Linked DNA regions of Homo sapiens. The protein of the gene in region 3 purifies or fractionates together with the protein of the main gene of each other region. This does not show direct contact. Each region holds a gene or a part of one and is shown on either strand. Other genes may lie near its edges. The genes, in order: CCDC144A, MNS1 and RAB28.

Evidence for each region.
Region 1: the proteins of RAB28 (region 3) and CCDC144A purify together in Homo sapiens (affinity purification with mass spectrometry; one large-scale study listed by BioGRID and IntAct). This does not show direct contact.
Region 2: the proteins of RAB28 (region 3) and MNS1 purify together in Homo sapiens (affinity purification with mass spectrometry; one large-scale study listed by BioGRID and IntAct). This does not show direct contact.

Annotation. Positions count from the first base shown.
Region 1 is NC_000017.11:16,770,086-16,773,741, reverse strand, and holds part of CCDC144A (coiled-coil domain-containing protein 144A), read right to left. Parts: intron 1,766-3,656; coding exon 1,723-1,765; intron 1,143-1,722; coding exon of another isoform or gene 874-1,142; exon of another isoform or gene 567-873; intron 246-566; coding exon 109-245; 3' UTR 1-108. UniProt on the Homo sapiens protein: May play a role in preventing the formation of kidney stones through inhibition of calcium oxalate monohydrate (COM) crystallization, attenuating COM-induced apoptotic injury to renal epithelial cells.
Region 2 is NC_000015.10:56,434,124-56,437,779, reverse strand, and holds part of MNS1 (meiosis-specific nuclear structural protein 1), read left to right. Parts: intron 1-1,832; exon of another isoform or gene 1,833-1,999; intron 2,000-2,440; exon of another isoform or gene 2,441-3,384; coding exon 3,385-3,642; exon of another isoform or gene 3,643-3,656. UniProt on the Homo sapiens protein: Microtubule inner protein (MIP) part of the dynein-decorated doublet microtubules (DMTs) in cilia axoneme, which is required for motile cilia beating.
Region 3 is NC_000004.12:13,372,788-13,376,443, reverse strand, and holds part of RAB28 (ras-related protein Rab-28), read left to right. Parts: intron 1-3,656.

The DNA.
Region 1 (3,656 bases), on a different chromosome or scaffold from region 3:
CAGACATGTATAATATAGAATATTTCCCTTTAGTAAAAATGTTCACATCATATATTTAATGGGAAACAAAATATCATGTGAATAGCCCAAATAAAATTGCCTTATCTTTCAGAGTATGTATTTTCTTCTTAAAATCTGTGCATATTCTTTTGTTACTTCCAAAACTGGATCTTGATTCAGATTTTCCTTGTGTGTAAATCCTAGAGGAGAAGCTATATAGGATCCAGGTTCATATTTAGTAGCAGCTGAAAAAAAAAGCAAGAATTATATTATTATTATTATTGTTATTATTTTAAGATAGGGTCTCACTCTTTCACCTATGCTGGAGTGCCATGGTGTGATCACAGGTCACTGCAGTCTTGTCCTCCCAGGCTTAAGCAATTCTCCTGCCTCAGCCCCAAGTACTTGGAACTGCAGGCATGAGCCACTGTGCCTGGCAAGCTTTTGTATTTTTTATAGGGGCAGGGTTTCGTCATGTTGGCACAGGCTGCTCTCAAACTCCTGGGCTCCAGTGATCTGCCTGCCTCAGGCTCCCAAAGTGCTGGGACTACAAACGTGAGCCAACATGCCTGGCCAAAGAATTATATTCTATATATTTCATAGTTAACTAAGTGCAAATCAGTAAAAAAGAGTTGAGAGCTTTTTCAGTGTTAACAAGAATGAAAAGTATGTATGACTACAATGCTAACTTATTATTAGATAAGAATCTGCCCACAGTTGCACACTAAATTAATGATCATTGTGGTTGTGTATCACAGCTTCTGGTTTTCTCATTCTTCATTCATTTATTCAACAACCACATGCTAAGGTACTAGACTATGCCCTGGAGTTACAAGATGAAGATGATACAGTCCACCCCTCAGCAATCATATGCTATAACCTGAAAAAGCAGACAAATAGGCAATTTCCATACCAAGTCATAGATACCCTGACAGGTATAAAACAGGGCACTATTGGAATGCAAGAGGGACACCTATCCCAGTTTTGTCTCGATACTGTAGGCTTTTCGGTGGAGGCATGGTTAGTGGATACCTGAAGGATGAGAAAAAAAGGTTGGCAGATAGAGCAAAGAAGCAAGTGCAAAGAGCTGGAGGAGAAGGACGAGCACTGTGGAATTCTGTGCAGTCCAGTTTGGCTGGATCCTAGAGCAAAGGGGCAGAGTAAAGTAAGTGGTGAGAGATAAGCCTGAGTAACTTGACAAGAACCAAATGAATGTGGGTGTTTATATTACATGTTAAGGAATTTGGAACTTTTTCTGAGGGCAAAAGTAAACCAATGACACTGTAAATGACTGGAGATTTAAAGTGTTACCTCTCAAGCGACTGCTTATAAACTGTAACTGCTTGAATAGGTTACTAGATGAGACTGGGATGTTTTGGCCTTAAAAATCACTACCATAACCCTGAGAAGTTGATGATGCTTCTGTTTTCTGAGAACCGTTTCTGTGTGCTGGCTGACAATTCCATAGGGATGGCAGAAGTGAAGAGTAGAGCCAGACTTCTTGAGCTATTTTTTTCAAGCTATGGAACGTGATGAATTCATGAGGCATAAGTATGCTCTTCATTATACATGTTCAAGTTTTCACATCTTTCATTAGATGTATATGAAAGAATATTTAATGTAGTATCTACTAGCCCAAGAACGGAAAGGGATGTCGTTTGCAGTTTATTTCAGATATATATTACTTAATCTAAATTTAATTCATAAATTTTGGTAACATACCTGCTACTTCTGCAGTTAGATCATTTTGCAACTTCTGCTGCATCTGAAATAAGTCAAATATTATTTATAACGTTTAAGAAGATACATTATCATGGTAAGGAGCATTAATTACAAAATGCGGCCTTTAAATAATACTTTTACAGACTAGACCTAACTTGAAGATTGCTTAAATTAAAAATATCATATAAATTCCTACCTATTTTAAGTTTAGATAATGGAGAACATATATGTGTTATGCTGTTTAGATTAATCTCACAAAAGTACAATTAATATTGGTCTGTTGGAGCTATGTCATTTCAAAAGTGTGATGTTTTCCCTTATTAGTACAGAGGTTACACAATTCAAGTCATATTCTGCAATGAATGCATTACTTTCCCATTCTTATCAAAACTCTGCCCTTTATCAAGGTCTAACCAGTTTTTCACTTTAATGAATAGTTCCTTACAATGAACTCCCCATTCTCCACTTTTAGAAAATAATAATTTCAAAGTATGTTCTTTGCTATTAATTCAGCACAGAATCTTTAATACATACTTGAAGAAAGCAGTATTGTTGTGATGCCATGTGAAAGTTCCACTGGCAAAAGATTAAAAATATTATGCTATTATGATTAACATTTCTTCATTCATACGGACACAAAGATTTCAGAAAATTTACATAAAAACAAGGATAAATACAGGTTAGAGCCAGTTTTCAATCTTAGTTTCTTTGATTCATGAGTGTCTAGAATTAAAAACTAGGAAAACAATTTAGAGTTATTTAACTGCAACTTTGATTTCTTTTCAGAAATTAGTACCCATTTTTTAAGCATCTGACAAGTTATAGTTATCTACTTAATTATGAAAGGTGTCAGAATATTTCAAACTTATTGCCAGTGTCCCTATCTAGAGTGCTCTTATTTAATTTTTTTTTAGAATAGGTATTCTCTCACTAAATGCCTAGAACGGGGTCTGAGATAGTTTGTGGTGATAAAGATAATGATATCTAATGCCTTTAGAAATTTTAGGTGTCAAGTCAATTTTTTTTTTTACTAACAGGTTTACCAATATTTTGAGACTCCTTTCCATAACATTTCTGTGACAAAAACATTATAGATAGGCTTTATAGAGTAGGTAACATGACAACAGCATTACCATCCAGGCCTTATAAAAGTAATAATTCAAGAAATGATCCTTTTCAAGCTATGTCCCACAGAAATCTAAGGTTCCACAGAGGATGCTGAAGGATTAAGGGATAAGAAAGTCACAGCTTCAGAGCACTGATCCTTCCTTTAGTCAGGCAGCACTACTTCTGTTTTCTATAATGTGGTTTTATGCAATTTAAAAAAGTTCCATTCTTAAAAAAAAAAGAGATTTACTTAAACGTATGAATGTCACTGATTTAGTCAAAGTCCTTAATTTTACATAAGAAACAAAACAGGCTCGGAGAGACTGCAGCTTGCCTGAGGTCACAAAACCAATTAGTTACAAGGTAGGAGTGGGCTTCAGATCTTTCACTGAGCCTGGAGTTATTCTATGCCAGCACCTTCCTTCATATTCAGAAAAGAAATACAGATTTTTAAAAATAACTCAGGCTGGGCACGGTGGCTCACACCTGTAATCCCAGCACTTTGGGAGGCCGAGGCGGGAGGATCACAAGGTCAGAAGATCAAGACCATCCTGGCTAACACAATGAAACCCCGTCTCTACTAAAAATACACAAAATTAGCCGGGCATGGTGGTGGGCGCCTGTAGTCCCAGCTACTCAGGAGGCTGAGGCAGGAGAATGGTGTGAACCCAGGAGGCGGAGCTTGCAGTGAGCTGAGATCGTGCCACTGCACTCCAGCCTGGGTGACAGAGTCAGACTCCGCATCAAAAATAATAATAATAATAAAAATAAAAAAATAACTCAGACAGTCCAGGTGTGGTGGCTCACGCCTGTAATCTCAGCACTTT
Region 2 (3,656 bases), on a different chromosome or scaffold from region 3:
TGTATCCTGAGACTTTGCTGAAGTTGCTTATCAGCTTAAGGAGATTTGGGGCTGAGACAATGGGGTTTTCTAAATATACAATCATGTCATCTGCAAACAAGGACAATTTGACTTCCTCTTTTCCTAATTGAATACCCTTTCTTTCTTTCTCCTGCCTGACTGCCCTGGCCAGAACTTCCAACACTATGTTGAATAGGAGTGGTGAGAGAGGGCATCCCTGTCTTGTGCCAGTTTTCAAAGGGAATGCTTCCAGTTTTTGCCCATTCAGTATGATATTGGCTGTGGGTTTGTCATAAATAGCTCTTATTATTTTGAGATATGTCCCATCAACACCTAATTTATTGAGAGTTTTTAGCAAGAAGGGCTGTTGAATTTTGTCAAGGGCCTTTTTTGCATCTATTGAGATAATCATGTGTTTTTTGTCATTGGTTCTGTTTATATGCTGGATTACATTTATTGATTTGTGTATGTTGAAATAGCCTTGCCTTCCAGGGATGAAGCCCACTTGATCATGGTGGATAAGCTTTTTGATGTGCTGCTGGATTTGGTTTGCCAGTATTTTATTGCGGAGTTTTGCATCAATGTTCATCAGGGATATTGGTCTTAAATTCTCTTTTTTTTGTGGTGTCTCTGTCAGGATGACAGACGACCAAAGTATCAGGATGCTGCTGGCCTCATAAAATGAGTTAGGGAGGATTCCCTCTTTTTCTATTGATTGGAATAGTTTCAGAAGGAATGATACCAGCTCCTCCTTGTACCTCTGGTAGAATTCGGCTGTGAATCCATCTGGTCCTGGACTTTTTTTGGTTGGTAGGCTATTAATTATTGCCTCAATTTCAGAGCCTGTTATTGGTCTATTCAGGGATTCAACTTCTTCCCAGCTTAGTCTTGGGAGGGTGTATGTGTCCAGGAATTTATCCATTTCTTCTAGATTTTCTAGTTTATTTGCGTAGAGGTGTTTATAGTATTCTCTGATGGTAGTATTTCCGTTGGATCTGTGGTGATATCCCCTTTATCATTTTTTATTGCGTCTATTTGATTCTTCTCTCTTTTCTTTGTTATGAGTCTTGCTAGCGGTCTATCAATTTTGTTGATCTTCTCAGAAAACCAGCTCCTGGATTCACTGATTTTTTGAAGGGTTTTTTGTGTCTCTATCTCCTTCAGTTCTGCTCTGATCTTAGTTATTTCTTGCCTTCTGCTAGCTTTTGAATGTGTTTGCTCTTGGTTCTCTAGTTCTTTTAATTGTGATGTTAGGGTGTCAATTTTAGATCTTTCCTGATTTTTCTTGTGGGCATTTAGTGCTATAAATTTCCCTCTACACACTGCTTTAAATGTGTCCCAGAGATTCTGGTATGTTGTGTCTTTGTTCTCATTGGTTTCAAAGAACATCTTTATTTCTGCCTTCATTTCGTTATGCATCCAGTAGTCATTCAGGAGCAGGTTGTTCACTTTCCATGTAGCTGAGCGGTTTTGAGTGAGTTTCTTAATCCTGAGTTCTAGTTTGATTGCACTGTGGTCTGAGAGACAGTTTGTTATAATTTCTGTTCTTTTACATTTGCTGAGGAGTGCTTTACTTCCAACTATGTGGTCAACTTTGGAATAAGTGCGGTGTGGTGCTGAGAAGAATGTATATTCTGTTGATTTGGGCTGGAGAGTTCTGTAGATGTCTATTAGGTCTGCTTGGTGCAGAACTGAGTTCAATTCCTGGATATCCTTGGTTAAACACTTTTTTCTACTGATATGATTATGACTTTTTCTTCTTTAGCCAAGTATATTACATTGATTTTTGAGTATTGAACCAGTCTTGCATCCCTGTAATAAACACTACTTGGTCATGGTGAATAATTCTTTTAATGTATGATCTATTTTTCTAATATTGGGTTAAGGATTTGTGCATCCATATTCACGAGGAATATTGGTCTGTAATTTTTTATATTGGTAGCGGGGTAATACTATCTTCATAAAATGAATGGGGATATGTTTCCTCCTCTTCTGTTTTCTGGAAGAGATTGTGTAGAATTCGTGTTAATTTTTTAAATATTTGATAGAATTTTCTAGTGAAACCATCCTGACTTGGGGTTTTATTTTGGAGGAATTTTAAGTTATTAATTCCGTCTCCTTAATAGTGATAGGACTATTCAGATTACCTTATTTCATATTTGGTGAGTTTTGGTAGCTTGTGTTTCTCAAGGAAGTGATCCATTTCATCTAAGTTGCCAAATTTATGTGTGTATAATAATTTGTAGTATTCCTGTATTATCCTTTTGATGTCTGTAGGGTCTCTAGTGATATCCTATGTTTTATTCCTGATATTAGTTATTTGTTTATTCATTCATTTTTTTTTTCTAGGTCAGCCTTGTTAAAGGTCTGTCCATTTCACTGATAATTTTTAAGAACCAGCCTTTTGTTTCACCAATAATTGTCTATTTTCTATTTTTAATTCCATTGATTTCTACAGTTTTATTATGTTTTTCCTTCTGCATATTTTGGGTTTACTTTACAGTTCTTTTTATAGGTTCTTGAAGTGGGGGCTTAGATTATCGATTTGAGACTTTTCCTACATACATGCATTTAGTGCTATATATATACATTTTCCTAAATGTATCCATTTAGTGCTATAAATGTTTCTCAGAACTGCTTTAGCAGCATCTCACAAATTTTGCTGTCTCACTTTTATTAACTACAATGTATTTATTTTCCTTGGCATTCCCTCTTTGGCCCATGAATTATTTAGAAGTGAGTGACCATTGTAAAATTATATTTTTTAGTATGTATGAAATTTTTCATAATAAAATGTTCAGAAAATAAAAGCTTATAGGAAAGGACTTAACTGTTCCAACTATATTTGAATTTCCCTAAAGAAGTACTGATTGTCATTGCTAGATAATTGTTTTTAAATTTTAGAGAATTTTGGAGAATGAAGGGAATATTAGAAGACTAGAGATGGGTAAGTGCAGCTTTGATTTTGAGGAGGAGGTTGGAAACTGAAAAATACTTATGGGTGGTTTGGACAGCTTTTGTAAGCAAGATTCTAGAATGATTCATAGTTACCATAGACTTTAGATGAATAAACTCAGGTGTGCAAAAAAGGCTTTTGTAACAGCTCTTTCCAAAGCAGTTACGTGTTAATTCTGAGTAGAGAAACAAGATGGTAAATATAAATTAAAATTTGTTCATGAGTAACAGAAAACAATCCAAATGTAAGCATATTCTTTATCCAGCTAGTTTTAAAGGGATGGACAAAGTTATCATGAAAAGCCTTACTTTTTCAGTTTGTATGATTTCATATTGTAATACTAAATTTAACCAAACTCTATCACTCTTTCCTTATAAATCTGGTGTAAGGAAATAGTTACTAAATTAACTTTCAGCTGTATTGTTTAGGAAGAAGCAGAAAAGAAATTGAGAAAGCAAAAAGAGATGAAGCAAGATTTTGAAGAACAAATGGCCTTGAAGGAATTAGTGCTACAGGCTGCAAAAGAGGAAGAGGAGAACTTTAGAAAAACTATGCTAGCTAAATTTGCTGAGGATGATCGAATAGAATTAATGAATGCTCAGAAACAAAGAATGAAGCAGCTGGAACACAGGAGGGCTGTGGAAAAACTTATTGAAGAGCGTCGCCAACAATTCCTTGCAGACAAAGTAAGAAAAAGTTG
Region 3 (3,656 bases):
TCTCTAAAAGCTTTGGGAATAGATTGTATGTATGAATCAGTGTTTATTGCAGAAGATGGAGAATGTTAACTTTTTGCCAAATTATGATACCCTTGAAACCTCATTTTGTCTCTTTTGTTGGGAAAAAGATACTAGTATAAGAAAATTTTTATTAGTGGTTAACTAATGAGTTAAGGTGCTGACCACATTGTTTGGCACTTCTTTATTTAAATCCTTTTGGAGCCTCTATTCAATTTTAAAACATCCTTGACTGTAGTGATATTAGTTTTTGATGTTATTTTATTGTCAGTTTAGTAGTGTTATTAATTAGTAAGGATTTCTATGTTTTTTCACTATTCCTAGATAGTTTTCTTAGGCTAAGAAAAAAACATGCATAGCGGCAGCCAAGAAATTTAAAGTACCACTATAATTTCCCACTAATTCATATGTTTGATAGAATGAAAAATCAGAGTAAGAGCCTATAAAGTTATGCTTCAGAAGTGGTTTGGTTAGAAGTAACAAACTAATTACATTTTTGCTCAATTTCTTCCACCCCATTCGCACCCTGTGCAACTAAAAAAGTATAATTATCTTTTCCCATCCTTAAATTTTTCTTGAATTCTTTTAGAGTTAGTTCTGTATCTTTTTCTCATGGTCTCTCTCTCTCTCTGTGTGTGTGTGTGTGTGTGTGTGTGTTTTAAAACAATTGAAGCAAATATTTGAAATTGTTACACTGATATGGCTGTTTCTAAGACTTGATTAAAACATTTGAAACTCTAAAAGTTTGCTAGTTTTAATTCCCATCATTCAAAGACATTTGTTTTAGCACTTGGTATGGCCAAATACAGTGCTAAGATACTTTGTGATGTTTAAATAGCTCCCAGACACAGAAAAAGTGGTTACTTGTTTTGGGCCTAGGAGAATATAGGAAAGAGAAGTCACCATGATTTGCTTGATCACACAGACCTTGGATCCCAGAGGTCAAGTAATTTGTTTGCTTTTTAGCTTCTCTGTCTAAATAATGTTTGTCTCTGCTTAGTTAGAGAGTCTATGATTATCATAAGTGATTTATTGGTCATACATTGTAAACTCAGTATAGTGGTGGGTCTAAAAAAGAATTAAAAGACTTTAAAATGTCCCTGCTTTTAGTAAAGAAAATTAATAGGTTATGTGCCAGGGGGACTGTGTTATCTCAGTTATCCTCATAATAACTCCCTGGATCAGGTGAAATTTTATCATTTTATGATCAGGAAGCTGAGACTGTGGAGAGACTCAGTAACTTGATCACTAACCATTAATTGGGCAGTGGTGGAGCCAGAATTTGCACCCAGGTCTCTCTGACACCAATGCCCTTGGTATTTCCACTCTGCCATACTGGGGGAAAGTGTACTGGGCAGTTTGGAGTGGGAAGGGAGAAAATGGCTGAAAGAGGAGCTGGTATGAATAATATACCTGGGTAGAAAAGGTTAGGTTGTATTTTGGAAACAGAAGAGCAGTTTGGTTAAAATAAATGACCATTTGTGTTAGAGTATAAAGAGTTTGAGAACAGATTTTGGGGATTTATGAATGCCAAGTTGATTAATTTTATTAGACCTATAATCATTTTGAGGTAGGGCAATAAATGAAAGCAGTTTTTAGGTAGAATTAATCTAATGGGATATTTTTATATGTCGTTGGATGGGAGGGAGATTGAGGTAAGGAGACTGAGTTACTGCTACCATGTGAAAAAGACCAAAGTCAAGATGGAATGGAAAGGTTGGATGGATGTAAGGGAGATTTTAAAGAAGAACCAATAGGGCTTGTGGAATTATTGGATAAGAGAGGATAGAAGTCTGAGATAACCCTGAGGTTTCTTGCCTGGAGGAATGAAGACAGGAGAAACCCAATGATTGGTTGTCTTTCTGAAAAGGGGAATGGTGGGCTGGTGCTTCACAGGTGAGAGGGCTGCACTGAGGAAGGATTCCTTGTACTGCCTGAGCTGTGCAGTGGTGATCAGATACAAGGAGACCTCTGGAGAAATGAAACAACTGGAGGCAAAATTTGGGGGAAGCTTTATTAACATTAGGTCCCTCATGTTGCAAGATCAACAGGGTTACTATTTTGACTTTAGATATGGGCTTAATATCCTAGTGTGTTTTAAATAAAGAGATATTAGATGTGTTAACTACATAGTTCCCTACCCTCCCTGCACATCTACTTTGTTTATTATGCTTTGAGGTTTAATTCTATCTTCAGTTTGTTGGTGGCATTTACTCTTAATGCATTCATTTGAAGGTGAATTCAAGTTACTGCAGCACTCTTCTATATGTTTGTCAAAATTCTTTGTGTATAGCAAGAATCCTTATTAGTCTTTCTTGATCCTGATGAATTTGGTGTTTTTGCCAATTAAATTATTGATTTTACAATTCATATTTCTCAGTGGAAACATTTTGGCAAGTTCATCTAAAAGACTAAGAAGTGCAGATTATATATATATACACACACACATATATACACACACACACATACATACATACATACATATATATACACACACATACACACTGCATGTGGTTGTTGCGACATTTGAAAGATTACTGGGGGGATTCAAGGGAATGTTTGAAAGTACTTTGTATTATTCTATAGAGAAGGAGTTAAATGGCAGACTCACCAGTCCCATTGATGTTGATGCTCTACTATAATAATTTAGTTTGTGACATAAATATTTACAGTGAGGTTTTAGTCCTAGTTTCATTCACTGACAATTTAAAGAGATTCTGCTAGTTTATTTCTAACCTAGATTGCTCCTATTTGGGAGTTATATAAAATGAGTTATCAACACACTTTGCAAGCTTTGCAAGGAAGAGGAAGAGAGAGAAAAGAAAGTGAATGCAGTTTATTAACACAGTAACCATATTTTGAGGGTCTGTGTAATGCCAGGGGGCCACACTAGAATCTGGGGATACAGAAATGAATAAGAGAAAGTCCCTATCCTCAAGGAGCTCCCAGAATAAGTGGGGCAGCCAAACATTTAAACAATGAACACTATAGATCCATTTTTCACAATTCCCAATTTGGTTAATAGTTTCATTTGCATCATTTATGTAGTCTTCCCCTTCTCCACTACCAACCATTATCCTCTAAGGTAGTGTAAGAATTGATACTGTTGTTAACAAGTGTTCTAGTTTCCCAGATTGTTCAGATTTTTTATTTGCAAAGTACATAGACCTTTAGGAGAAAAAATAAATTTACAATTGCCGTTGTTTAGGAAATCCAGCAATCGGCTCTTTAAGAATGCATTAGATAATTGATAAAGAAAAAGCATAGTCCTTTCAGTCCTGTCTTGTGTCCTTCAGTCTGAATTGCAAGGAAGTTTTGCCATATCTACTTGGTGTTAAGAATTCTTAATACATTTTTAAGCCTCAGCATTTTTACTTGCCAATTAATAAACTGTGAATTTCTACTTGGTTTGAACTAGGTATGTATTAGTTTTTAAAATACCAAAAATTTCTATCATGTCTGAGATATTCATTAAACTTGCTAAAAATATATATTCCTTATTGTCCCCTCAAATTATTTTCAGACTGTATCTGAAAGTATCTCATGTAAGGCTTGGCATGTAATAGACATGCTCAAGATTTTAGTTACCTTAATTTGCATATTATTGTACAGTACAAGTACCCATTTAACCTTTGGTA